Homo sapiens: one gene and its partners. The protein of the gene in region 4 purifies or fractionates together with the protein of the main gene of each other region. This does not show direct contact. Each region holds a gene or a part of one and is shown on either strand. Other genes may lie near its edges.

Region 1 (7,945 bases), on a different chromosome or scaffold from region 4:
TCCCAAAGTGCTAGGATTACAGGTGTGAGCCACCATGCCGGCCAGTTGTCATTTTAAAGTGCTAATATTTGCAACATGATGGAGATTACATCTCCTGTAACTATTTATGACTAAAAGTTTAAATGTCAGTTTAATTCTTATTTATTTTAGTTTTAGAGACAGGGGTCTTGCTGTGTTGCCCAGGCTGGTTTCAAATACCTGGTCTCAAGCAATTCTCCTTCCTCAGCCTCTGGAGTAGCTGGGAGTATAAGGGTGTGCCACTGTGCCTGGCTAAATGTCTATTTTAAATGTGTGTAAAGTGGCACATAACTGTTCAACATCATTTTAGAGGTTATCTGAGCACGAAGAAAATCATTAATCCCAAAGGCTCTGCACTGTGCTGGCTGCCTCATCCTCACCATCTCCTGAAAATGGCCTCTCAGTGGCTGAAGCTCTCCAATGCGAATGTTCTAGACACAAATGATGTGGTGACACTCACATCAGCATCAAACAGCTCCATCTGGTTGTCCACCCTGCTTCCTGCTTAACCATTTCCTGCTGACTTCTGAGTGAGTGACACATAAACTAACTACAAAGTTGAACTGGGCTGCTCCTGAGACTTGTGGTTGTGGTGCTGCTGTGCTGTGCTACATTAAGAATGTTGGGCTGGGCGCAAGGGCTCATGCCTGTCATCCCAGCACTTTGGGAGGCCGAGGTAGAAGGATAGCTTGAGCCCAGGAGTTTGAGCCCAGCCTGGGCAATATCGTGAGACCTCATCTATATATATATATATATAAATATACGTAATTGGCAGTTCATATTAAAACAAAGTTTTTGAGAGTCTGGAATTCTGGAGTTAGTCAGACCTGGGTTCAAATCCTAGCTATATTATCACGTATGAAGTCTTCTTGCCAATAACTTTTAGCCTTAGGCTAATAACGATCCCCCGCCGGACTTTTTTTTTTTTTTTTGAGACGGAATTTCATTCTTGTTGCCCAGGTTGGAGTGCAATGGTGTGATCTCGGCTCACTGAAACCTCTGCCTCCTGGGTTCAAATGATTCTCCTGCCTCAGCCTCCCAAGTAGCGGGAACCCAAGTAGCGGGAATTACAGGCGCCTGCTGCCACGTCTGGCTAATTTTTGTATTTTTAGTAGAGATGGGGTTTCCCTATATTGACCAGGCTGCTCTCAAACTCCTGACCTCAGGTGATCTGCCTGCCTCACCCTCCCAAAGTGCTGGGATTACAGGCGTGAACCTCCAAGCAGGGCCTAATAAAGCCTTTTGACCTAACTTCCAGTGTAGAGTACAGGGGTCAGGAAAACAAGTTCATTGACACTGTGAATAAACAATTAGGCAAATGTAGAATGTGGGACATTCTACAAGAAAACTGGCCTGTACTTCAAAGTCAATGTCGTGGGGAAAAGAAGTGGAGGAGCTTTACTAAGAGTCTAAAGCAACATAATAAACGCAATGCATGTGATTAATTAGATACTGCACAAAAAAATAAATCCAAAAAACTATGAGACATTTTTGAAACAATTGGAAAAACAGGAATATGGACTGGATATTAGGTTATATTAGAGAATTATTGTTAGTTTTCCTAGGGATAAATGTGGTATTGTGGTGATATTAACAGAGTGTCCTAATTTTTAGGAGCTGAAACGTTTAGGGGTGATGGGTTATGATATCTATCACTCACTTTCAAATGATCCATAAAAAAGCATAAGCCTCATACACCCACAGAGGGGGTGTCTGCCACATTTGCCATGAAGCAAATATGGCAAAATGGAAACAGCTGTTGAATCCTAGCTGGTGGGTGAACACTAGGAATCCTTCCATTATTCTGTATGTTGAAAACATTCATAGTAAAAAGCTAGGCTAAAAACGTTCTGCTGTGCAGTTGTGCTGTGCGACCTTGGGCAGTTTCCTTGCCTCCCAGGCCTTCATTTCATCACCTATGAAAAGGGTTAAAAATACCAACCCCGGTGGGGCGGTGGCTCACGCCTGTAATCTGAGCATTTTGGGAGGCCAAGGCGGGTGGATGGCTTGAGCCCAGGGGTTCAAGACCAGCCCGGGTAACATACCGAGAACCCATCTCTACAAAAAATTAAAAAATTAGCCTGGCGTAGTGGTGCCTGCCTTGAGTCCCAGCTACTCGGGAGGCTGAGGTGGGAGGATCGCTTGAGCTCGGATAGTTGAGGCTGCAGTGAGCTATCATGGAGCCACCAGACTGGGCAACAGAGCAAGACCCTGTCTCAAAACAAAAAACAAAAAACTCAAACAGCCTCACATGATCCAGGCGCCCAGAGGCTGTGGGTGCTGCAGCCTTAATTATTATTATGACCACCTTCGGCACGGCGTCTGGTACACAGTGAGTGCTGAGCTCCCCGAGCCGCGGTTTCTCCACCCTAATGGTGAACAGCCTTTTGGAAGTCGCGCTAACCTTGGCCTGAGACCTGCAAACTTGCCCAGGCTGGGGCGTGTGAACCGGCGAGCGCGCAGCGGAAACGGGGCGGGGCACCTGAGGCTGGGAATGCAGAGGAGCCTTCCGGGGGGCGGGGCGGGGCCTCCCGTGCAGACCAATGGTGGAGTAGATGCAGATGTCAAAACGCGCGCTCAAGTGGCTTCCGCCAGGAATCCCGACGCTTAGGGAGGCGGAGGGAGGATCGCTTGAGACCAGCCTGGGCAAACAAGCGAGACCCTCGTCTGTTTACTTAAATAAAACCAAAAAAACGAGCACCGAGGGAAAAAGGAGTGAATCCCGGGGCTAGCAGCAGCCTGCGGCGGGCGCTCTCCCGGGAGTGGCTGCACCGCCCGACCTCCCCGGAGGCGGAACCGCCCGCATTGCCGCGTGGCCCTGGGCGCCGCCACCTCCTCCGCAGCGGGGCAAAGTTGCCGGACCTGGGGGCAGGAGGGCCACGCCGAGATGACTCAGGTTTAGCGCGGGAGGGGAGGATGGCGACTTCACCCGGCCTTTAACAACACGTACGCATCTTTCGGCGTCTTCTACAATGGCTATGTTAATTACGTGGCCAGGAACTAAACTATCAATGAAGCCACCTCTGACTACTTCAGTTACAGTGAGTTTAACAGGAGCAAAAAAGCACGTGGCGCCCTAGGGCAACCGAAACGAGGGTTTTAGACGCTGATTATGGGAAATTGAAATCTGAGTTGAGTATGAGATGACACCAATAAATTATAATTTTGTTAGATAATAGCTTTATCAGCCATAAAGTAATCAATAAAAATACCAGTTTCCTGGAGATGGATGCTTTAGTGTGTTTGGGGTGAAAATGGCGATGAATGGCGAGTTGCTTTAAACAAATCATGGTACACCAAAGTTTTAGTTGTGGCTTTGTGTAAGGAATGTGATGGGCACTTATTCCTGCAACACGAGAATACTATGATTTACAAGTCCGTAGTACTTTTAAGAAATGAGAGAAACAGACCTAGGTGGGGAGGGTACCTGTCCCACCCCACCCTCTTTAAAGTATCTTATCTAGAAAAGGCTTTGTGAAAAAAAAAGTCCCGGGTCTCTCTCAATAACAGCCCTGAGCGCAGCTGTTGAAGCTTTCTCAGGTTAATGATTTCTTTCTTGGATCTTAAAGTTTCTTTCTCTTCCTTTATTTTTGGCATTTTGCCCGTTGCAGGGCCTGGCAAATCAGAAAGCCACATAGAAAATTAAATGAAAGCTATTGCTAAGTTCCAGTCTCTACACCAGTGGAGTTTTCAAACTCCTCTTCAGCATATTTGACGCCCAATGAGTAGTACATTAATTCCTAGTCCTAAAATCATTCTGTGAACTTTCTCCCAGGAATTTTTGCTCAGTTTGCAATTAAAACAACTTTTTTTCTTCTCTTTTTAATGGCAGAGGCGGGGTCTCACTATGTTGCCCAGGATGGTCTCCAGCTCCTGGCCTCAAACAATCCTCCTGCCTTGGCCTCCCAAAGTGCTGGGATTACAGGCGTGAGCCACCGCGCCCAGCCACAGTTTGCAATTCTTAAGGCAAGGGTGACAATAGGGGTCAGGGGTCTGACAGGAGACAGGATTTCTGTGGAAAACTGCACCAAGGGCCTTCTCGCCATGTCCCGTAGTTTGAAGGTTTACAAAGGACTGCACATTTTACATGAGTCATCTCAACGAACGCTCTCCTCACCGCATTAACAGTCCACGCGGTTACGAGTCCCATTTTACTCACGGGGACACCGAATCTGTAAGAAGCCTGGTCGCTTGTCCCAGCAAAACGAGCCACGGGGCTCAGCGGCCCTAACTTTTAGGCTGTAGGGTCCTCGCCGACCACCCCGCCAAAATGTCAGGCCTCGGGGCCCTTGCACCCCCACCGCAGGGACACGGATCGAAAGGGTCGCAGCAACGCCTCCCCCGCACCCAGGAGCGTTTTCCAGGCCTTTGCACCAACCTCGTTGGCTAAGCCCCCTGCCCGGCGGCGGCCCGGCTGGGAGGAGGTGCTTTCGGGAGGCGGGGCCGCGGCCCGGGGATCCTCTCGCGCCCGCGGGCTCCAATCGCTGCTCCTCACGCAATCCTAAACGGTTCCCGGGCGAACCGGGGCCCGCGCGCGCCAAGGCCGCCGAGACCCTCAGGGGCTGCGGCCCTGGTCCCGCGGGACCTGTGGGGGCCTGGGCGGCGGCGCCCCCGACCCAGCCAGCGGACGGGCCGGGGGGGGAACCGGGAGGTCCCGGGGGGCGTCCACGGGGGTGTCCCCGGGGGTCTCCGGAAGGCGCCGGCGGAGGCTCCCGCGCTGCGCTTGAAAATCGCGCGCGGCCCCGCGGCCAGCCTGGGTAGGGGCAAGGCGCAGCCAATGGGAAGGGTCGGAGGCATGGCACAGCCAATGGGAAGGGCCGGGGCACCAAAGCCAATGGGAAGGGCCGGGAGCGCGCGGCGCGGGAGATTTAAAGGCTGCTGGAGTGAGGGGTCGCCCGTGCACCCTGTCCCAGCCGTCCTGTCCTGGCTGCTCGCTCTGCTTCGCTGCGCCTCCACTATGCTCTCCCTCCGTGTCCCGCTCGCGCCCATCACGGACCCGCAGCAGCTGCAGCTCTCGCCGCTGAAGGGGCTCAGCTTGGTCGACAAGGAGAACACGGTGAGCCCGCGGGGAGGGCGCTGCGGGCAGGGGAGGGAGGCAGGGAAAGCGAAGCCGCTCCTCACTCACACGCGTCTCCCCGCAGCCGCCGGCCCTGAGCGGGACCCGCGTCCTGGCCAGCAAGACCGCGAGGAGGATCTTCCAGGAGCCCACGGAGCCGGTGAGTGGCGGGCGTGGGGCAGAGGGGCCAGGGACGGCCTTGGGCGTCTTGGCGCCAAAGCCGCATTGTTTCCTCAGCTGTTCACACTCCCGCCCCGGCTCCTTTCCCGCCTAGGCGGCCCCTCCCCAGGGCTGCCTCCCGCGCCCCTCGGCCCATTTCCCGGTTCGGGCGTGCGCTCCTCTGCTGCGACCCACGGAGTGCGACGGGACAGCCACGTTTTCACATCGGGCCCCGTGAAATTGCCGCCAATGGAAAGGACTTGGTCCAGAAAAACGTTAGTTTCATATGGTTCGCCCGGTACTTAAATGTTTTATTTTCTCCCCCAACAGAAAACTAAAGCAGCTGCCCCCGGCGTGGAGGATGAGCCGCTGCTGAGAGAAAACCCCCGCCGCTTTGTCATCTTCCCCATCGAGTACCATGATATCTGGCAGATGTATAAGAAGGCAGAGGCTTCCTTTTGGACCGCCGAGGAGGTAATCGGAGGACCCCAGAAGACCCCTGCAGGGGTGACCGTCACGCCTCAGACATAAATGCACTTGGAGGTTCCCGTTGGCAAGGGGGGCTAACTGTGGGGCATAGTAAGTGGTGCCAGCATACTTAAAGTTTGAGTGCTCAGTGTGAGTCCTGTAGGCTTTACTCTCTTCCTTTTATGCTAAAATTGTGACTTCCGAACCTCAGGTGGACCTCTCCAAGGACATTCAGCACTGGGAATCCCTGAAACCCGAGGAGAGATATTTTATATCCCATGTTCTGGCTTTCTTTGCAGCAAGCGATGGCATAGTAAATGAAAACTTGGTGAGTTTCCAAAACATCTTTCATTCATTTGACGTTGACGATCTGAGGTCGAACTAGTTCGCTTTCCTCGTCTTGTATGTTTTTCCATGCTGAGTGCATCTGTGTGTGTAAGCTGGGTTTTATATTACATGGCATTTCCTGTTTTGTAACACTTTGCAGTTCTTTCTTATGGTATTTTCCCGACTCTAGAGAAGCTGAGACAATATTAAGTGGTAGCAATGTGATGACTCTTTGTGGCCACCACATCTGCCCCCTCTTTTTTTTTTTTTTTTTGAGACAGAGTCTCACTCTGGCCCAGGCTGGAGTGCAGTGGTGTGATCTTGGCTCACTGCAACCTCCGCCTCCTGGGTTCAAGCGATTCCCCAACCTCAGCCTCATGAGTACCTGGGATTACAGACGTGCGCCACCATGCCTAGCTAATATCTGTATTTTTAGTAGAGACAGGGTTTTACCATGTTGGCCAGGCTGGTCTCGAACTGCTGACCTCAGGTGATCCACCCACCTTGGCCTCCCAAAGTGTTGGGATTACAGGCGTGAGCCACCACGCCCGGCTCTGCTCCCTCCTTTTTGTGGCTTTGCTGTTTTAATAATAATTTGGTTGTATCTCTTATTGCGAATGGATCTTTCTTGACATAAATTAATTAGGAAATCGAGCGCTCACAAATCCTATTTTATATGTATCTATTTCCTGATATGTAAGTTGAGCATATGACATAAAATATCAAAGAATTGTGACAAATTGGATGAAATATATATAGAAATAAACCTTATAATGGTACAAAGAGTGCGATGCTGCCAGTATCCGTTGACAGTTGCTGCTGTTGGTTTTTTCTCAAGCTTAACTTTGATGTGTTTTGCCACTAGGTGGAGCGATTTAGCCAAGAAGTTCAGATTACAGAAGCCCGCTGTTTCTATGGCTTCCAAATTGCCATGGAAAACATACATTCTGAAATGTATAGTCTTCTTATTGACACTTACATAAAAGATCCCAAAGAAAGGTGAGTATTCAAGTGGTATGCCAAGATTTTTAGGACTCACTAATTGTTGATTTATTACACATTTTTAGTTCACCTAGGGATAAAAATGACTCCAGAATGACTAAGACAGTCATAGGCATTCCCAGCACCCGTGGTCATGTCTGCTCTTAGCAAGGGGCCTAAATGCACTTTATTATTCACTTAGAGTTGTGAAGGTACTCCTTTTAAAGTTGGATGTCTACCAATGTAAAACCTTCTTTTGAAAAAATTCCTAGATGTTGGGTAAGACAAACTAAAACCTATGTCTGACCATCTTTGCTCATTTGGTAAAGTTGTTGAGAAGCTAGAATGTGGGGCTGCAGTGGGATGGACGGGGAGGACTTGCCTCCTAAGAAGCCTGCAGTATAGTATAGGCAAATAAGACTTAGTAGGAGTTACATAAGGCAGAGGCAGCAGTGAACCCTGAGACTGATTTAGGCATGCAGGAGTTTGGCTGAATAAAGGTAGCTTAAGGTCTGTTTTGTTTTGGAGATTGGAGGTGGGGGGATTAGAAATGGGCTGCTGGAGTAGTCTAGATACAAAGGTCAGCTTTAGGGTGGCGCGCGGTGGTTCTCGCCTGTAATCCCAGCACTTTGGGAGGCTGAAGCGGGCGGACAATGAGGTCAGGAGATCGAGACCATCCTGGCTAACACGGTGAAACCCCGTCTCTACTAAAAATAAAAAAAGTGGTGGCGGGCGCCTGTAGTCCCAGCTGCTTGGGAGGCTGAGACAGGAGAATGGCGTGAACCCGGGAGGCGGAGCTTGCGCTCCAGCCTGGGTGACAGAGCAAGACTCCGTCTCAAAAAGCAAAACCAAGCAAAAAAAACAAAGGTCAGCTTTGGGGACCAGAACCTTGTATGGAGTGGAAGTGGTGAAGCTGCAACCTAAAGTAGCCGTTGT
Region 2 (7,044 bases), on a different chromosome or scaffold from region 4:
CTGTCTTACCATGTTCTTTTTTAAATGACGTAATACAAGTAAAGAATGCCTTGATGAGAAAGAGAAAGCTCTGAGGGATTCCCATTGGGATAAACAGAACTCATCTTTCCAGTGTGGAACCGAAAACCTTTGTGTTACATTTTTTTCTAATTGTAATATTTGTTAGTGTGATTTAGTGATTATCAAAGTAAGCCACACTTGCCTCATTTTCTCCAAATTCTCATTTTCATGTCATGTAGGACTTAGGATCATGTCACATTTGATGAAACCACATAGGTTTGGGTTTGCAAGGTTAATGCATTTGCATAGTTTTTTTTTCTTCTAAGATCCTATTGCAATTCTAGCAGCTATCAGGAAGTTGGCTAGAGATGCCTGAGATTTGGGGGAAGGTTTTAACGAAGTCTTTATAGTAGGTATTTCACTAAGGTATACTTTTTATATCAGAGTACTGTGTAATAAAGTAGAACGTTAATAACCAGCCTCTAATATTTATATACTTGAAAGAATGACATCTGAGAGAAGTTTTTTAAAGAATTATGAGCATATGTAGACACCATTTTACTCATCTCAGCCAATTTTAGAAAGGTTTCAGATAATGTCAGTTTCCTTACAGAGCTGGCTCGTGCTAGTCCCTGTTTGCATGAGTCAAACACCGGCTTTTCCATGGATAAGCCCCACTTTCTCCTTCAGGCAGCTGGTTGGTGTCAGGAAAGAGCGGGGTCTCCCACACGAGTCCTTTGTGATGATTTTGTTCCCATCGGGGTAGTGGTTTTCTCCCCACTCAGCTCTTTGCTCCTAGACCCCGGCTTTCTGAAGCCCCTCAGAGCCGCTGGCCTCCTCCGTGCTTAGGGCTCCGCGGCATTGTTGCAGCAGGACCTCTGTCACAGACTTGCTGTGTATACTGTTTTCTTCAGGATTAACTTGGAAACTGAACATTCTATTGATTATAAACATAGCTATTTCATAAATTTGCCCCAGTTAATAAAGTCAGGTTTTACATTTTATAAAAGCAGTAAGCTACCTATTATTAATAAAGAAAATGCTGTTGTTTCATTTAGGGGAAACTAGAATTACAGGGAACCAAAAGTAATAACTTCCTTTTTTATGATTTTTTTTTTCTTTGAGATGGAGTCCTGCTATGTCACCCAGGCTGGAGTGCAGTGGCGTGGCCATGGCTCACTGCAACCTCCCGCCTCCTGGGTGCAAGCGATCCTCCTGCCTCAGCCTCCCAAGTAGCTGGGACTACAGGCATGTGCCACCACTCCCAGCTAATTTTTGTAGTTTTAATAGAGATGGAATTTCACCATGTTGGCCAGGCTGGTCTCGAACTCCTGACTTTAGGTGATCCACCCACCTCAGCCTCCCAAAGTTCTGGGATTACATGCGTGAGCCACCGCGCCGGGCCTTGTGAATTTAATAGACTGGAAAATTAGTGGGTGGGCATTCTTCATATCTGTATCTAATATAACGGATAAACAAGTTTGCCAGGCCTACTTCATTTAGAACGTTGTTAGTGACCAACACGCTTATGAGAACAGATGTCTTTGTCCCCTCCCAGCAGCTTGTGTTCATGTTCATATTTTCTAAGATTAGAAAACAAAAACTAACAGTTTTGTTGTTGCTCATGACAGCATAGGTAGTTTTGGAAATAGGAGGGTTAGTTCTTCGGTTGGTCCCAGAAAATGCCTAAGACATTTGGGAAAATATGAAGTGGCTGATGTTGTTCAAATTCAGCTTGTTTATTGTATTATTATATGGGATGATAACCTTTTTTTTGGTCAGCCTTTCTGGTCTCTAGAGACTTATTTAAAACTAAATATAAGCATACTTGGCAATCACTAGTAATTCAGAATATTTCACATTCTGTCTTTATACCCATAATTGTTTTAATTTTTACTCAGGCAAACATAAATGGCCGTGTGTTAGCTCAGTGTAACATTGATGAGCTGAAGAAAGAGATGAATATGAATTTTGGAGACTGGCACCTTTTCAGAAGCACAGTAAGATATTTGTAACATTGTGATGTTTACAACATTATTTTATGATAACATTCAAAATTATTTATAACATTGTAGAAAACCAGTATCAATAAGTACTGGCCTAAACTGGTATTTTTTTCATATTTTTTTAAATTTAAAAACTGCTTCTTACACTTATGTGCAATCCTGTGTTGTGGAAAATACACACAGCAGCACTTGGCAGCCTTTGCCTTTTTGGGCATTTCACTCAGAGATTTGGGGAAGAGGCCGCCTGCCGGTTCTTCATGCTTTCACCTGCCTTAACTCTCATCAGGCTCCTCAAAGCCTTCGAGGCCTTGACCTTCAGCATTCATCCTTATAGGGCTTGCATTGCCCAGGTTTAGCAAGAATCCTGTTAAGTCAGTTTACATGTGTGATCACCCTCAGTATTTGATCAAACGCCTCACTAACCCCCCCACCCCCAGGTGATGTCGGCTCACCCTGGCCATCGGCGTACCAAGAGTCCCCCACTCCTGCTGCCTCCCCTTAGTAATGTTCCATCCACGACCCCCACCCTGCCCCTTGGTGGTAGATCCCCACTCATTCGTGCTTATTCCGAGTTGGACTCCCTTCTGTAGTGAGACTGCTTACCCCTGTTGCCATAGTTCTGAATAAAATCTGGACCTACCGCCCTACTCCTGGCCAGCTCTGGTTTTGACACAAGCCAGCTGCATTTTTCTTTGTCCTCAAGTTAAGTTTTAAACAGAAGTAATAATTTAATGGACAAATTGCAGTGTAGTATATGTATGGTGGTTTCTACCATTGCTTCCTTTAGTATTAATGAACATGAAAGATAAGCTGATGTATAAAACAAATTCACTAGAAATTCACTTACCAGAAGTATGCTTTCTCATTGCTGTTGCAATAGCTTTATAATGTTTGGTATTTCTAAATATTTCTAAAGCTTCTAAAATATGATTTGTTAGTGTAAATATTTATGTTTTTCTTCTGTTAAGGTACTAGAAATGAGAAACGCAGAAAGCCACGTGGTCCCTGAAGACCCACGTTTCCTCAGTGAGAGCAGCAGTGGCCCAGCCCCGCACGGTGAGCCTGCTCGCCGCGCTTCCCACAACGAGCTGCCTCACACCGAGCTCTCCAGCCAGACGCCCTACACACTCAACTTCAGCTTCGAAGAGCTGAACACGCTTGGCCTGGATGAAGGTGCCCCTCGTCACAGTAATCTAAGTTGGCAGGTATTTATTGAATGGCATTTTTCATATTATTGAAGAATAAGCACACCGTTCAGTTCACTGAGATTATATGGGCATTTAGACAGTCATTCAGAAAATGCTTACTGAATACCTAAGTGAACAGGAGACAAGATGGAGGGCTCCCTGTACTCAAGGAGCTGCATCCATGTGGAGAGGGGCAGTCAGTGAAACAAACAAAAAAGTAGCTCATGTAGACATTGATGAGAGCTGAGATATCCATCAGGGTCACAGCATGCAGAGTCAATAGGGATTAGGCCACTTGAGCTAGGGTGGTCAGCAAATTCAGCCTTTCTCAGGCGATCTTCCTGTTGCATTCAGTAACTGTTGGTTGAAGTACATCTTCATTGGAACACTGGCCACATAGTGTCCCTTTGAGCACCATCCTTTGGTTTTCCAGGACGCCTGCACACCCTTCACGGATATTGGTTTCTTCTGGTCTGGCATTAGATGTAGGCGCGTTCTTCCTTTGGAGATTCTTAGAAGAAGGAGGCCAGGTGAGGGGTAGGGGTAGGGGCAGGGACAGAGCAAAGTGAGAGATGCAGGAGGAGTAGCGGGAGTGAGGAGAGCGCAGGAGGAAAAGCAGAGCAGGGTGTGGAGAACAACGGGGGAGGAGGCACAGCGGGCGGCAGCGAGTAACACTGAGTGGGCAGGGCAGGGCAGCGGTGAGGAGGAGCAGCGCCTTGGGGAAGGAAGAAAATGTCCTATTTCCTTGAGAAGGTCCCCAACAAATTCACTTTGCTCCTTCTTTTTTGTTTTAGCCTTTGCTCTTGACCCTTCTTAAACTTTCTTGATTCTTCTCCTTCTTTTTCCTCATCTGTACTTTTTGCTCCTTGTTTCTTAGCTATTCTGGGATCTGAAGCAAATTCTAATTCTAAAACTTAATATTGGAAATAAACTTGTAAAACTACTTTATTTTTCTGTTTACTAAGGCCCAACTATTGGCCTCATTGCATTTTATATTTTATCAATGAAGTTGACTTTGGCCTTAAATAAAAGCTAAACGTTTGAAGTTATAAAAACAAGTGCTGTGGCCGAGCATGTGGGACATGCCCATAGTCCCAGCTGCTCAGGAGGCTGAGGCGGGAGGATTGCTTGAGTCCAGTAGTTTGAATCTAGCCTGGGCAACACAGCAAGATCCTGTCTCTTAAAAATGAAATAAAAACCAGAAACAAGTGCTAAGATTATTTGTTAATACAGTGTTTAATCATACTTTTAAATATTAACAATAAACTGATTTTATTAAAATTTATAGAAAGCTTTCTAGTAACAGCATTATAAGGTCACAGCTTTTGTTAATCTGTGTTATGTAGAATTCTTTTAAAAGAATTTGATGTTTTGATGACTTTTTAAATGGTTAGTGTACATATATATTTCCTAAGCTGATGTTTATGCCTTTTTTCTTCTTATTTGAATTTTTAAATTATTTTTTTTCTGTCTTCACAGTCACAAACTCGCAGAACCCCAAGTCTTTCGAGTCTCAATTCCCAGGATTCCAGTATTGAAATTTCAAAGCTTACTGATAAGGTGCAGGCCGAGTATAGAGATGCCTATAGAGAATACATTGCTCAGATGTCCCAGTTAGAAGGGGGCCCCGGGTCTACAACCATTAGTGGCAGATCTTCTCCACATAGCACATATTACATGGGTCAGAGTTCATCAGGGGGCTCTATTCATTCAAACCTAGAGCAAGAAAAGGGGAAGGATAGTGAACCAAAGCCCGATGATGGGAGGAAGTCCTTTCTAATGAAGAGGGGAGATGTTATCGATTATTCATCATCAGGGGTTTCCACCAACGATGCTTCCCCCCTGGATCCTATCACTGAAGAAGATGAAAAATCAGATCAGTCAGGCAGTAAGCTTCTCCCAGGCAAGAAATCTTCCGAAAGGTCAAGCCTCTTCCAGACAGATTTGAAGCTTAAGGGAAGTGGGCTGCGCTATCAAAAACTCCCAAGTGACGAGGATGAATCTGGCACAGAAGAATCAGATAACACTCCACTGCTCAAAGATGACAAAGACAGAAAAGCCGAAGGGAAAGTAGAGAGAGTGCCGAAGTCTCCAGAACACAGTGCTGAGCCGATCAGAACCTTCATTAAAGCCAAAGAGTATTTATCGGATGCGCTCCTTGACAAAAAGGATTCATCGGATTCAGGAGTGAGATCCAGTGAAAGTTCTCCCAATCACTCTCTGCACAATGAAGTGGCGGATGACTCCCAGCTTGAAAAGGCAAATCTCATAGAGCTGGAAGATGACAGTCACAGCGGAAAGCGGGGAATCCCACATAGCCTGAGTGGCCTGCAAGATCCAATTATAGCTCGGATGTCCATTTGTTCAGAAGACAAGAAAAGCCCTTCCGAATGCAGCTTGATAGCCAGCAGCCCTGAAGAAAACTGGCCTGCATGCCAGAAAGCCTACAACCTGAACCGAACTCCCAGCACCGTGACTCTGAACAACAATAGTGCTCCAGCCAACAGAGCCAATCAAAATTTCGATGAGATGGAGGGAATTAGGGAGACTTCTCAAGTCATTTTGAGGCCTAGTTCCAGTCCCAACCCAACCACTATTCAGAATGAGAATCTAAAAAGCATGACACATAAGCGAAGCCAACGTTCAAGTTACACAAGGCTCTCCAAAGATCCTCCGGAGCTCCATGCAGCAGCCTCTTCTGAGAGCACAGGCTTTGGAGAAGAAAGAGAAAGCATTCTTTGAGAAAAACAAGCAAAGGAGAAGAGTGTTACTGTACCTTTATGACAGAATTGTCCTGGATTTTGACTCCATCCACGCCCATCACCTTTCTACATTTTGCTGACAGATAACTAACCGATGATGAGGCCGAGGTAAAAGAGACATCTGCAGTGTGACAGAAGGGAGCATGAGAAGCATGGCTCACCAGCCAGCCTCTGTGGTCTTTGTAATTAGAAGCTTCAGAACTCACTAATACTACTGTACCTTTCATTGGCGCATTACCCCATAAAACTTTTTGAGACGAGGTGAGATCTGAGTATAAAGATAGGTCAGAAGTATTTTAAAGGGCTTAATGTGCCAAAAAGAAAAAAAGCTAGAGACCCTTTTTGCAAACATTTGGTGACCACACATTTGAGGGAAGACGTGGCGTTAGGTGAAGCAGAAGCAAACCCTGCTCTTAGGGGCTCACCTAGGTGAGTGCACAGCCTGTGACGCTACAGGGAGAGGCTGAGTAAACCGAGATCCAGCGTTCTGTATGGCAGGGGTATTGCTTATCACAGAGGTTCTGAAGAGTAGGAAGTACATAATGAAGAGGGCTTTAAAAATTGCCAACAAAGTGAGTCACCAGGGCTGGCAGTAGTGTGACGGGGCTGTCCTGAGCTGTTAGGAGAGTAGATGCGGGGAGGGCTGGTGACCTCCGTGGGTTTATATGTCGGAAACTCTTCTCTCCAAATCCCAGGCCTGGCTTCCAGCACCATCCAGCTGTGCCCAAGAAGCCACCCTGGTCTGTTCTCCAACTCTTTTAAATGGTGCCCAACTTTTCTAAGTGAGCTTAGCAATGAGAAGAAAAAAAAACATGAATTCTTTTTCTGGAAAATCAGGGAGACATGGGTAATAATAGGTACTAATAAATATTTATAGATGAGTGAATGAGGAAATAATTACATCAAAAAGGTCAGTGACAATTGATAAATGACAAGGAAATATTTAATTAGGTAAAACTAAATCATTGCTCTCTATACTAGGATAGACTTTATCTACTTCATCTGTTCCTAAGTCAGCATGTTAGTTCTGGGGAAGGATCATAAGAAAGGAAATACTTTTTAAAAAAAAATTTGGAAACATGTAACAAA
Region 3 (7,644 bases), on a different chromosome or scaffold from region 4:
ACATATATTTAATGTACAGAATTGGAAAAAGGACTTCTTGATAATAAACATATTTCATGTAAACACAAGCTTTCAATATCTATGAATATTTCATTGCAAATACACCCTAAGTTACTTCTTCTCTACATAAAGGAGAAACTCCAAGTTCTGCTCTTTAGGAAGACATGGAGGGCAAGCAATACCTTAGGAACAACCATTGCTATTTCTCCCCTTTCCTTGGGTGACCTAACATTTTACAGGGACTAACGACATAAAGAAATATTAGATTCCATTGAGTTTAAACACAAATTTCCCACTGAGGGCATTAAATATTTGATGCTTATGAGTGTGAATAAATAAATATTAGGTATAAGGCAGATTCCAAAACCAACTGAAGTATGAAAACAAATTGGCATAGATACCTAACAGTCAGTAAAATTAAATTTCACTACTGAGTATATGCTACATGCTTCCTTTTCTACTCCAGTGGGTTCTGCTTTTTTTGTCTAAGGTCTTCTGCTGGACTCTAAGACAGTCAATTGCTTAACATCACCAGGTTTTTTGTCAGGGGATTTATTTTGGAAATAAACCAACTTCTTTTTTATTAAAGATCAAGGTTGTCTTTTTTGCTACATGCTTCTTTCCACTACATATTGACTCCCTCATGAAAGAAAATTCACAGGACGAGAGCAAGTACTCTATGTTGGCTGTTCCGCAGTGTAATGACTGGTTAATAAAAGAGCCACTCAGCCTGGACAATATAGTGAGGCCTCGTTTCTGCAAAAAAATTAGCCAAGCATGGTGACACGCACCTGTGGTCCTAGCTACTTGGGAGGCTGAGGCAGGAGGATCACTTGAGCCCAGGACACAGAGGTTGCAGTGAGCCAAGATTGTGCCACTGAAATCTACTCTAACCTGGGTGACAGAAAGGGACCTTGTCTCAAAAACAATAATAATAATATTAAAGGAGCCACCCGTTTAATCCTTTTCTTGTCTGGTCTCATCCAAAGAGTAAGCCAAAATAATCAAGGTCACAAAGGACTTATGACCAAGGTGTAACTCTGCAAATATCTTTAACTGGTCATGGCTTCTTTGTTGGATCCCTTCCCACTTATTAGAAGACTCAGATGCTTCAGCCTAGTTCAAAGTAGTACACTTCATACCTCAGCAAAGTGGACCAAAAAAGAGGAAAACACAGAATACAAGAAAGAGTTGACAAAGCAAATCTAATAAAAAGTATGGTTGGTTTGAACAGTCACTGGTATGATTTGAACAGTCCTTATGGTTTGAACAGTCCTTATGATTCTACTTTTTGACAGGCTCCTCCTTTTGACTACTGAGCAATTAAGATATTTTCAGTCGTTTCGATTCCTTTTCCACATTGTCTCTAATGTTCTGTAGTTTTCTGGAGTTCTGAACCAGGGATACTAAACTCTCCCTAAAATCACTAGTCCCATGATCTCTGCCAACATTATGAAGCTCATCAAAGAAAGTCAACGTCTGTTTGAGTTTGGCCTGAACAATTTTTTGCTCTTCTAATTCTGCAAGAAGGGCCTGCTTAGTACATAATTCAGTCTTGTACTTCTCCTGTAACTGTTCAATTTCTTTCTGGAGATGCTGAAAATCTTCCTCACTATAAGGTGTCTCCTTACATTTATCTTCAGGAAGCAAGATGTTTGAGGGAATACGTAAAATCAGCTGCAAAAACAGTTGCTCCATTTTGCTAAAAAGGTTATCAAAATGTCCTTTCATGAAGCAAAGAAACTTCTCTGTGCATTTGCGAATCTGCACTGGGCTAATGTCACAGTCTGGGATGCCATCCAGCTTCTTCAGAATAACCTGTTCAACGGCCTGCATCACTTCAAATAGGTAGTCTTGAAATGCAATGTAGATCCGAAGCATGCACGTTTGTGGCGTGAAGCCAAAGAACTGGGCCTCGTAGGTCATTGGATCCACAGACATCTTGGCTTATTTTGCTATGTTGTTTTCAGTCGTGAAAAACCTGCAAATGTAAAAAGGAAATAATTCATTTGGAAAAAAAAAATCTTCTGCAGGAAGTAACCAATCACATTACAGATAGCAAACAAAGAAGCAAATCAATAAAAAATAAGGAGTTTGTGTTCCTTTATACCTGATGCCACTCCCACAACAGGATATAAACTCTTTGCCTCTCTGAGGCTCCTTCCATCAGCCTATACCCTCCCTTTTCCCCTCCTCGTTGTTCACTTCCCTTACCTGTGACTTTGGCACAGATCAGTCTTCTGAATTATCATCCTAGACAACTTTGAAGTCTAGACAGATGACTTAACCAATGCCCTAGAGACTCAGTTTCTTGAGCTTCAATGACCTATAGCTCCACCTTTTAGCCACCTGGCTCTTGATATTTGTAACTACTCTTCCAAACTGCTTCTACTTTTTGACTACTGCCTCCTACACAATTCTTCCAATTCTTACCCATATACTCATATTATACCCTAATCTTCAAGATTTACAGCCCCTCCACCCTCTCTTTCTGTTCTCAGCCTCTGCCACTTCTCTTCTTTCCTTATTCATTTTAGGCCTCATGATCTATCATTTTGATCACTCCGTTGCCAATGTCCTCAATTTGCTTGTCCTCCAGCCAAGCCATCTGAAAAAAACCCAATTAGAAGATGAGTAAGTCCCTTGTCAGCTTTATAACCCTGACATGTTTTTTCAAGGGTCTGCGAGTAATTCCTCTCAAATATAAACATCTAGGAAAATAAAACCCCTATCTCCTTGTCATTGTGGGAATTCAACCTAGGCATCTTTTTCTGAGATGAAATGATATTGCTTGTCATAGAAATAAGAGAAATTTTATTATTCCTTCAGATAAAGGCAATTAGCTAAAACAAACTGCTACTTCAATTATCAGGTGAATTTAGGACGCACTTTATGAAATAATTTGCAATAAGCAGTACAGTCAAATCTTATGGGAAGATAAGATGCAGCCAATCTTAAGAATTTATGTTTGTAGGCTGAGCACGATAGCTCATGCCTGTAATCTCAGCACTTTAGGAGGCCGGATGGACGAATCACCTGAGGTCAGGAGTTCGAGACCAGCCTGGCCAACATGGCGAAACCCTATCTCTCCTAGAAATACAAAAATTACCCAGGCGTGATGGTGGATACTTGCAATCCCAGCTACTCGGGAGGCTGAGGCAGGAGAATCACTGGAACCCGAGAGGCGAAGGTTGCGGTGAGCCGAGATTGTGCCACTGCACCCCAGCCTGGGCAACAGAGCGAGACTCTGTCTCAAAAAATAAAATAAAATAAAAATTTACGTTTGTAATGGTTAAATATGGAGTGGTTATAACTGTTTGGCTGTATATGTAAGGTAGGATTTCTTTCTGTTTTTCTTTTTTTCTTTTGAGACATGTTGTCGCTCTGTCGCCCAGGCTGGAATGCAGTGGCACGATCACAGATCACTGCAGCCTCAACCTCCCGCGCCCAAGCAATCCTCCCACCTCAGTCTCCCAAGTAGCCGGGACAACAGGTGCAGGCCACCATGCCTGGCTAATTTTCTTGTTGTTGTTGTTGTTTGAGACAAAGTGTCACTCTTTCGCCCAGGCTGGAGTACAGTGGTATGATCTCGGCTCGCTACAACCTCTGCCTCCTAAGTTCAAGTGATCCTCTTAGCTCAGCCTCCCAAGTAGCTGGGATTACAGGTGGGCGCCATCTCAAACAACAACAAAAAAATACACTTCCTTGATTAACTCCTTTCTTCGAATTCCCATTAGGACCTCTCTTCGGGCACTGACTGATGAACTTCTACCGCCTCATCTTCTCTGCTAGACTTAGAGTTCCTGAGAGCAGAATAAATGCGGCTTGATCAGTATTTGCCGATTCAACGCAGAGGTGCCCAGGTCATCTCGGCGAGTTGAGCTGTCTAAGACCCCGCGATCGCGCAGGACAGGACCCAGAAGCCAGAGCGCAGGAACTGCTTCCGGCCGGCTCCCGGCTTCCGTCGGGCCCCGCGCCCGCGCTGCATGCTGGGATCTTCAGGTCGGAGGCCGGGGTGAGGCCGACCCACAGGCCGCCTTGCTCCCTCGCGAAGACGCTTATGCCAGTCTCGCCCGTCCCCGCTCCTCCTCAGAGAAAATGCTGCCCCGCAGCACTTACCGGAGCGACCATGAGGGTGACGATTTGAAGCACACACAGGCTTCCCGCCACCTCCTTTAAACCGCCGCTGGCTTGCCAGGGACAGACGGCGCGGTTGGCTCCCCAAAATTCCGACTGATACGCGCCTCGGCGAGCGAAAGCAAACGCGGGATACTCTCGCGTTCCTGATTGGCTGGTTGTGGACACCTCAATTATGACAGAAAGGGGCCGGGCGGGAAAGTTAGCTGTGGCCGGCGGGGATTGGCAGAAGGAACCTGTACTTACTCGTTTTTCCCGGACGTTGGCTGGTGGAGAAGAGAGGGTGGGGAGATGGGGCGCTGGGGGGGGGCGGTGGCGACGCAACTCGTGATTGGCGGATGTGCGTTCCTTAGGTCTCTACGGATTGCGGTTGCTTGGCGTTGATTGGGCAGTCGCGGGAAAACTAAAGTGGGCGGGGGGCCTTTGGGCCCGCCCCGCCGCCGGGGCCTGCTGGCGGAAGGGGAAATGGGGTGGGTGGGGGGTGGGGCAGGCGACGGTGGGGAAGATGGCGTACCAGAGCTTGCGGCTGGAGTACCTGCAGATCCCACCGGTCAGCCGCGCCTACACCACTGCCTGCGTCCTCACCACCGCCGCCGTGGTGAGCAGCTGCAGTGCCACCTTCTCATTATCTGGGCTGGATATGACTGGGTCTTCAGGAAACTGGGGTTTGGGCCTCGGGGAGGCCCAGAGGGGCTGGTCCCGGGGATGGGTGGAGGCGTACAGGGATTACTCTGGGGTTCGAGTTGGCGCCAAGAATGCTTATCCAGTGACGCGAGAAGGGAGTGCTGCTTCATGGGGGGTCAGGTCAGTTTCTAAGAGATGAGCGCCGGACCTATAGCGGGTTAGGGTTGCGGGAGCCTCCCACCCAAGAAATGTGTCCGAGAGCTCTGCCAATGGCCAGGTGGTACCATGGTGACTAGTGAGAGGAAGGTCCGTTTAGTGAAGAAACAGGAATGGGGAAAGCAAGCTGGAAACTGTCGAGAGGGGAATGGCTTATAATAAAAAGGGTCTCTGGATCTAAATAAGGGGCTAGCTGGAGGTACCCAGCCCTAACGGTGGCAGGGTCTCCAGTCTCCGTTATTTCAAGTGAGTTTTGTTGTTTCATACAGCTGTTTCAGGTGGTGCCCATGTGGTGGGTAGATTCATAGCAGCTGTTTTTATTTGTCCTGTGTCTAAAATATCACCACCTGTCTGCCTCATTTCTTCATGTCAGCCTCAACTATTGCAACATAAAACAGACTTTTTTGTGTTAGGTATTGAGGATACAAAGAATTCTACCAATCCTAGAGAATTCTTTACCAACCTCTTCCTCTGGCCTAAGAAGAAAGGCTTAAAGGAAATCACGTCTAAGTGACCGAGAGTTGGAAATTGCTAGACCTACTAATTCTTTGTTGTAAATGATGAAATTTTGTTTCTTGATTTGCTTTAAGAAGCTCTTTTTCTATTTCAGCAGTTGGAATTGATCACACCTTTTCAGTTGTACTTCAATCCTGAATTAATCTTTAAACACTTTCAAGTAAGTGGTTCATCACAATAGTGATTAATGCTTCAGTTTCTTCTTTTTCTTACTGTTTAGTAGCAAATCCTGTTATACACTATCCTAAAAAAGAACCCAGTGGGGACCTTTGATTATAAGTTGCCTTGTCAGGATATAAAGCAGTGATTCTGCAGCCTGGTTGGACTTGAGAATCCCTTAGGGAACTTTGAAGAGATTCTCAAGCTCCTCAACAAGTACCAAATCAGAATTTGCAAGGGTAGGAATTAAAATCTGTGTTTTATTTTTAAAGTTCCCTGCATCGTTTTGATGTGTCCAGTTCCTGTATTTGGAAATCACTGGTTTAGACTTAACGTTGTCCTATGAGAGGAGGCTGACTAGCTAGCTGCTTAGGGGTTGTCTCACAGGGATGGCCTTATTTTGTCCATTCAGCACCTAGGCACACCCACCACCTTGGTGTTATCACCATGGTCCAGAAACTCAATTCTGTTAGTGCTTTTAAATTGTGATCTGTCTTCCAGGGATCAGATCATACTAACCAAATTCCAAACATCTAAAGCTATATGGTGGTTTATTAGATTACAATGGGAGATGGTCCTTTCCAGTGATTAAAATGCCAAAAGAGGCTGGGCACAGTGGCTCACGCCTGTAATCCCAGCACTTTGGGAGGCTGAGGCAGGCAGATCACCTGAGGTCAGGAGTTCAAGACCAGCCTGGCCAACATGGTAAAGCCCTGTCTCTTACTAAAAATACAAAAATTAGCCAGGCGTGATGGCACATGCCTGTAATCCTAGCTACTGGCGAGGCTGAGGCAGGAGAATCACTTGAACCCGGGAGGCGGAGGTTGCAGTGAGCCGAGATTGTGCCATTGCACTCCAGCCTGGGAGACAAGAGCGAAACCCTGTCTCAAAATAAAATGCTAAAAGAGAGATGGATTTTTCTGTTCCAGGATGATCTTACCATAGTTGGAGTAGGGGAGAGACCCAAAAGCCAATAACTGTGCCTCTACACATGCTGTTCTGTCTGTCTCAAATGTGTTTCATTCACTTTATATCCATTGAACTCTAGCTTGCCTTTCAAAACGCAGCTTTTGTGTAACCTTTATGTACTCATCCTCCTTTGTTTTAGAACATCTCTCACTTTTACTTTGCAGTTATGCGTATGCTTGTCTCCTCACTAGGATGAGGACTCTAAAATCTGGATAATTAATATGTAGAACTGAATTGTTTCAACTTTAATAGTTAACAATTCTCAAGAATTTAGTGGTCTGTAAAGCAGTCCTGTCATCTCTTGTCACTGTGTTCGCACAATACTCACATGGCGCTGTAGTTCCATCCAAGTAAGTCTTGCTTCCTACTTGGCTTTACTCTGCCTGGGGTTAAACTCTTGATGACACTGTGCATTTGGAGTTAGGAGTTCTAGATTTGCCATCAGAGTTTCCATCTACTCCTGCGGGTCCTTGGTCAGGACATTTAAAAGTTCAACTTTTAGCTGAATAACTAGTATTCAGCTAGTCAGTCAACTTTTAGTCTCCTATCTGTGAATTGGGGGTAGCTTGCTTGTCTGTGGATCACAAGAGATAGTAGACATTTTAAAACGTTAAGCACTCTACAATTGAGAGTGGTTACTGTGGGTGTGGAGATGTTGGGTAGGGAAGGGTCTATCAGGGTTTCCAACAAGAAAATAAGTGTTTGGCAGGGTGCAGTGGCTCACGCCTGTAATCCCAGCACTTTGGGAGGCTGAGGTGGATGATCCCCTGAGGCCAGGAGTTTGAGTCAGCCTGGACAACATAGTGAGAACCTATCTCTTTTTTTTTTTTTTTAAGTTTTAGTTTAAAAAAAAAGAATTTTCCTTTCTTTTAGATGTTTCTGACTGCCTAATGTAAACATTTCTCAGCAATTTATATTAGACCCTGAAGTTTTTCTCTGATATGTCAGTTCTATTTATTATATGATGATACTACATATGAAAGCACTGTTTTCTGTTCTGCCGATTAACCTAGTCTTTCCAGC
Region 4 (3,190 bases):
CTGCCTCTGGGGAAGAGAGGGAAGAGAAAGCACAGAGCAGAGAAGCAGAGATGTTCCTTGAACTGCCCACAAGTTTTCAATAACTTTTATTTCTGTTTTGTAATGACCAAAGGAATGAGGCTGACATAGGTATATATATATATTTTTTTCCTTTATTTGATAAAGAGCCAATTCTTTAAACCCATGAGTTTATGCCCTGGGCTCCTTAGCCCACAATAGTGTAATAAAAGTGCCCCGGGCTGGTTTGTGCTTATTTCTGCCATTGTCCCTCTCACGTTCCCAGAGAGGTCATTCTTTTTGGTCCAACTCTTGCTGTCCTTTCTTACCACCTGTGCACCCCACTTGGAGCAGTGGGAGGAAATCTGGGTTTGTGGCCCCACAAAGGCTGTATATGTAAAGATACACCTATGTATGTGGTGGAACTCACCTTTACACACAACTGCAGCTTTTCCTTGGAGTCTGTACCAGGTGGTGGTTATGGGGTCTGAACCAAAGGATAGCAGCTCTTCATTCCTCTTCTGACATGTGCATGCTGCTCCCCCCAGCCCTGGGCTTTCCTGAATTGCCAAGCCTGGTGCCTTTCCAAAGGACTAGCAGGGCCTGTGGTGGAGCCAGCAGAACCACAGGAGAGTGCCCTGCCTGTCTCAGTGGAAGTGTATTATTGTTTTAAGGATAGAACCAGAGGCCTTGAAGGGAGCCAAGACAGAACTCCCAGCCTGTGTAATCTATTGGAAGGCACATTTTCATTTCTGATGCAGCCACCTTCTGGAGGCAGCTTTTATCCTTTCTCTCTATTGCTATGTTGAAGTAATAGGGTTTTTTTTAACCTCTGGATGTCTCGTCTGTGGTTGAGTTTATGGTAATGGGTACATGGGTCAGGCCATGTATTAACAGATGCCAGTGCGCTCTGACAAGTATTCCAAAGTGTTCTGTAGCTAGACTGGTGCAGGCTCGTTGTACCACTGCAACCGACTGACGTTACTGTAGTTCCTAGAATGCTGTGAGGGCGGGGGGTTCAGATCAACATAAAGCCTAACTTGCTGGAGTTGTAGTCTCAAGGCTTTCTCTCTTGCTTAACTAAAACCTAAGGACCACTGTTTTTGGTAGCAATTATATGGTTACTATCCACTGCAGTCCTCAGTTGTTGGGGTAAATCCCACATGGCAGAGTAAGGCACCCCACAGAAATTAACTTGGAGAGCCTGAGAAATTCCCAGTGGCCTTGGCATAGCTGTCTAGAACACCATCTCTAGGAAAATTTAATTCTGTCCCTGGCCAGCTATTGTTCTTCCACTTCGTTTTCTGCTGTCCCAAGGCCAGATGAGTGGAATCACCATCTGACTGCTGTCAATAAAATGTATCTGGCGTGAACAGCAGGATAACCCATGTTCTCCACATAAGGATAACCTTACGTGAAACCTTCCTGCTGACAACCATGCAGAGGAATTTTTCCACTTAAGTCAGAGCCTTCCTCCCCATCTGGAATTCACAGCTGTTCCCTGGCAGCACACAGGAGGGTATTAAGGACCTTTGTGAGGCTAGGTACACTGTCCACACCTCTTTGGGGAAGTTACGATTTTTTTTTTCCATCATAATTCAGTCTCTTCTTATTCTACAGTGTGCACTTTATGCCTCTCGCCTTTTGATAATAGTTGTTCAGTGAAGGAAGTCAGCTGCCAGAATATTAAGAAGGGTCTCCCTTTATGTCAGTACAACTGTTAGGGCGGCCTTCCCATTTACTTTAGGTTTCAAGAGGATTCACCGGAAGCACATGCCCCGGTCTAGTCCCATTTGAAACAGTTCTGCTTTACTGAGACCCTAGGCCGGTCTCCTTGCTGACCCTAGCGCTGCTGCCTAGGTGCCATTTCCTTTCCTCCTCAGTCAAATACAGGCTGCACATTTTGTCACTTAATGCCAGTACAATCTGTGTTACTCCTAAGGACTTTTGGGATTTTGATGAGACCTGCGAGGGAGAAGACACTGAGAAGCCAGTGATCTGCAAGCATTTGCTCTTGTTTCCACATCACCTCTGGGATATTTCAGCTGTTGTTTCCAAATGGCAAATCATCAACTAAAAGCACTTGTTTCAAGTTTTGTTCTGCACTCCCACGACTGAAGTTGTAGATTGAGCTGAATAACCATGGGAAGTGACCAAGCAAAGACACTCGATTGGAGTCAGTTGAATATTTGTACCCTCAGTGGAGCCCTTCTGGTCTTTTCTTCCACTTCTGCAGAATTTCCTCTAGCAAATACTTCTTTCTCCTTGCTTGCCTCCACCATGATATTTGAATAAGAGATGGCCAGAGGATAACACTTGTCTCTTAAAAACTAAGCTAAAAAGAACCTAGAACCTTCAATTGAGCAGTTGTGAAAATTGCTAATGGTGCCAAGGCCAAGCAAAGAGTTTCAGAAAATGACTGAGAAGGAGCGATAACCCCCAGAATGCAAAATCAGGGGCATCATTATCCGGTGCTTGAACAAGGAGCTCCGCTCTACAACTGGTTTTTTTAGGACTTGTGAGGAACACAGCAACGGAAATCCATCCACAAAGGATGCAGTGCCCCAACTTGTACTGCGCCTGAATAGTCATGTGATAATTTACTGAAGAAATCTAGTGTACTTTAAATTTTTTTCATAAAAGTTTACATTGTATTGTAGGTTAACATTAAATGTTTTATAGCAAAAACTTCATAACAGGCTGTGGATCTTTCTGTGTGGGACCGATGTGGTAGATAATTTTCTATGTGTGAAGGAGAGGTTGAAAAACACCGGGAGGGAACAGCATGGCATGGCATTGCCAAGAAGGAAGGGAGAGTCAAAGAGAAGGATGGAGTTAGGTCTTCTCTGTTGTATCCCTGTGGAAAAATAGCAACTTAGTATGATGGAGAGAGAGAGCAGACAGGCCTGGGTTCAAATTTGGGCTCTCTAGTTTGTCAGGTTTGCAACCTCGGGCAAATTCTCTAGCTTCCCTGAACTTGAATTTCCCCAGCTATAAATGAAGATAATGCCGTCCACCTCAGGATAGGTTTATAGATTCAATCAAGTAAATGTATATGAGGCTCCTGATATGTAGATGTCATTAAGTGTTTGTTCCCCTTCTATGGGAGTGTATTTTGTAAGAATATTTTCTTGGAATAACATTTTCTTAAGGAATTTGTCACTTTTGTTGGAACCAACTTGTGTCCTTGCAA

Evidence for each region.
Region 1: the proteins of FAF2 (region 4) and RRM2 purify together in Homo sapiens (affinity purification with mass spectrometry; 4 studies listed by BioGRID and IntAct, with this or other methods). This does not show direct contact.
Region 2: the proteins of FAF2 (region 4) and KIDINS220 purify together in Homo sapiens (affinity purification with mass spectrometry; 4 studies listed by BioGRID and IntAct, with this or other methods). This does not show direct contact.
Region 3: the proteins of FAF2 (region 4) and DERL2 purify together in Homo sapiens (affinity purification with mass spectrometry; 7 studies listed by BioGRID and IntAct, with this or other methods). This does not show direct contact.

The regions. Positions count from the first base shown.
Region 1 is NC_000002.12:10,117,824-10,125,768, forward strand, and holds the start of RRM2 (ribonucleoside-diphosphate reductase subunit M2), read left to right. Parts: upstream 1-4,975; coding exon 4,976-5,074; intron 5,075-5,159; coding exon 5,160-5,234; intron 5,235-5,563; coding exon 5,564-5,707; intron 5,708-5,912; coding exon 5,913-6,029; intron 6,030-6,893; coding exon 6,894-7,027; intron 7,028-7,945. UniProt on the Homo sapiens protein: Provides the precursors necessary for DNA synthesis. Catalyzes the biosynthesis of deoxyribonucleotides from the corresponding ribonucleotides. Inhibits Wnt signaling.
Region 2 is NC_000002.12:8,729,611-8,736,654, reverse strand, and holds part of KIDINS220 (kinase D-interacting substrate of 220 kDa), read left to right. Parts: intron 1-1,901; coding exon 1,902-2,000; intron 2,001-2,974; coding exon 2,975-3,211; intron 3,212-4,672; coding exon 4,673-5,935; 3' UTR 5,936-7,044. UniProt on the Homo sapiens protein: Promotes a prolonged MAP-kinase signaling by neurotrophins through activation of a Rap1-dependent mechanism. Provides a docking site for the CRKL-C3G complex, resulting in Rap1-dependent sustained ERK activation.
Region 3 is NC_000017.11:5,483,160-5,490,803, reverse strand, and holds the start of DERL2 (derlin-2), read left to right. Parts: upstream 1-4,642; coding exon 4,643-4,735; coding exon of another isoform or gene 4,736-4,941; intron 4,942-5,587; coding exon 5,588-5,653; intron 5,654-7,644. Other genes in the region: protein MIS12 homolog, read right to left, coding at 1,324-1,941.
Region 4 is NC_000005.10:176,507,385-176,510,574, forward strand, and holds the end of FAF2 (FAS-associated factor 2), read left to right. Parts: 3' UTR 1-2,690; downstream 2,691-3,190. UniProt on the Homo sapiens protein: Plays an important role in endoplasmic reticulum-associated degradation (ERAD) that mediates ubiquitin-dependent degradation of misfolded endoplasmic reticulum proteins.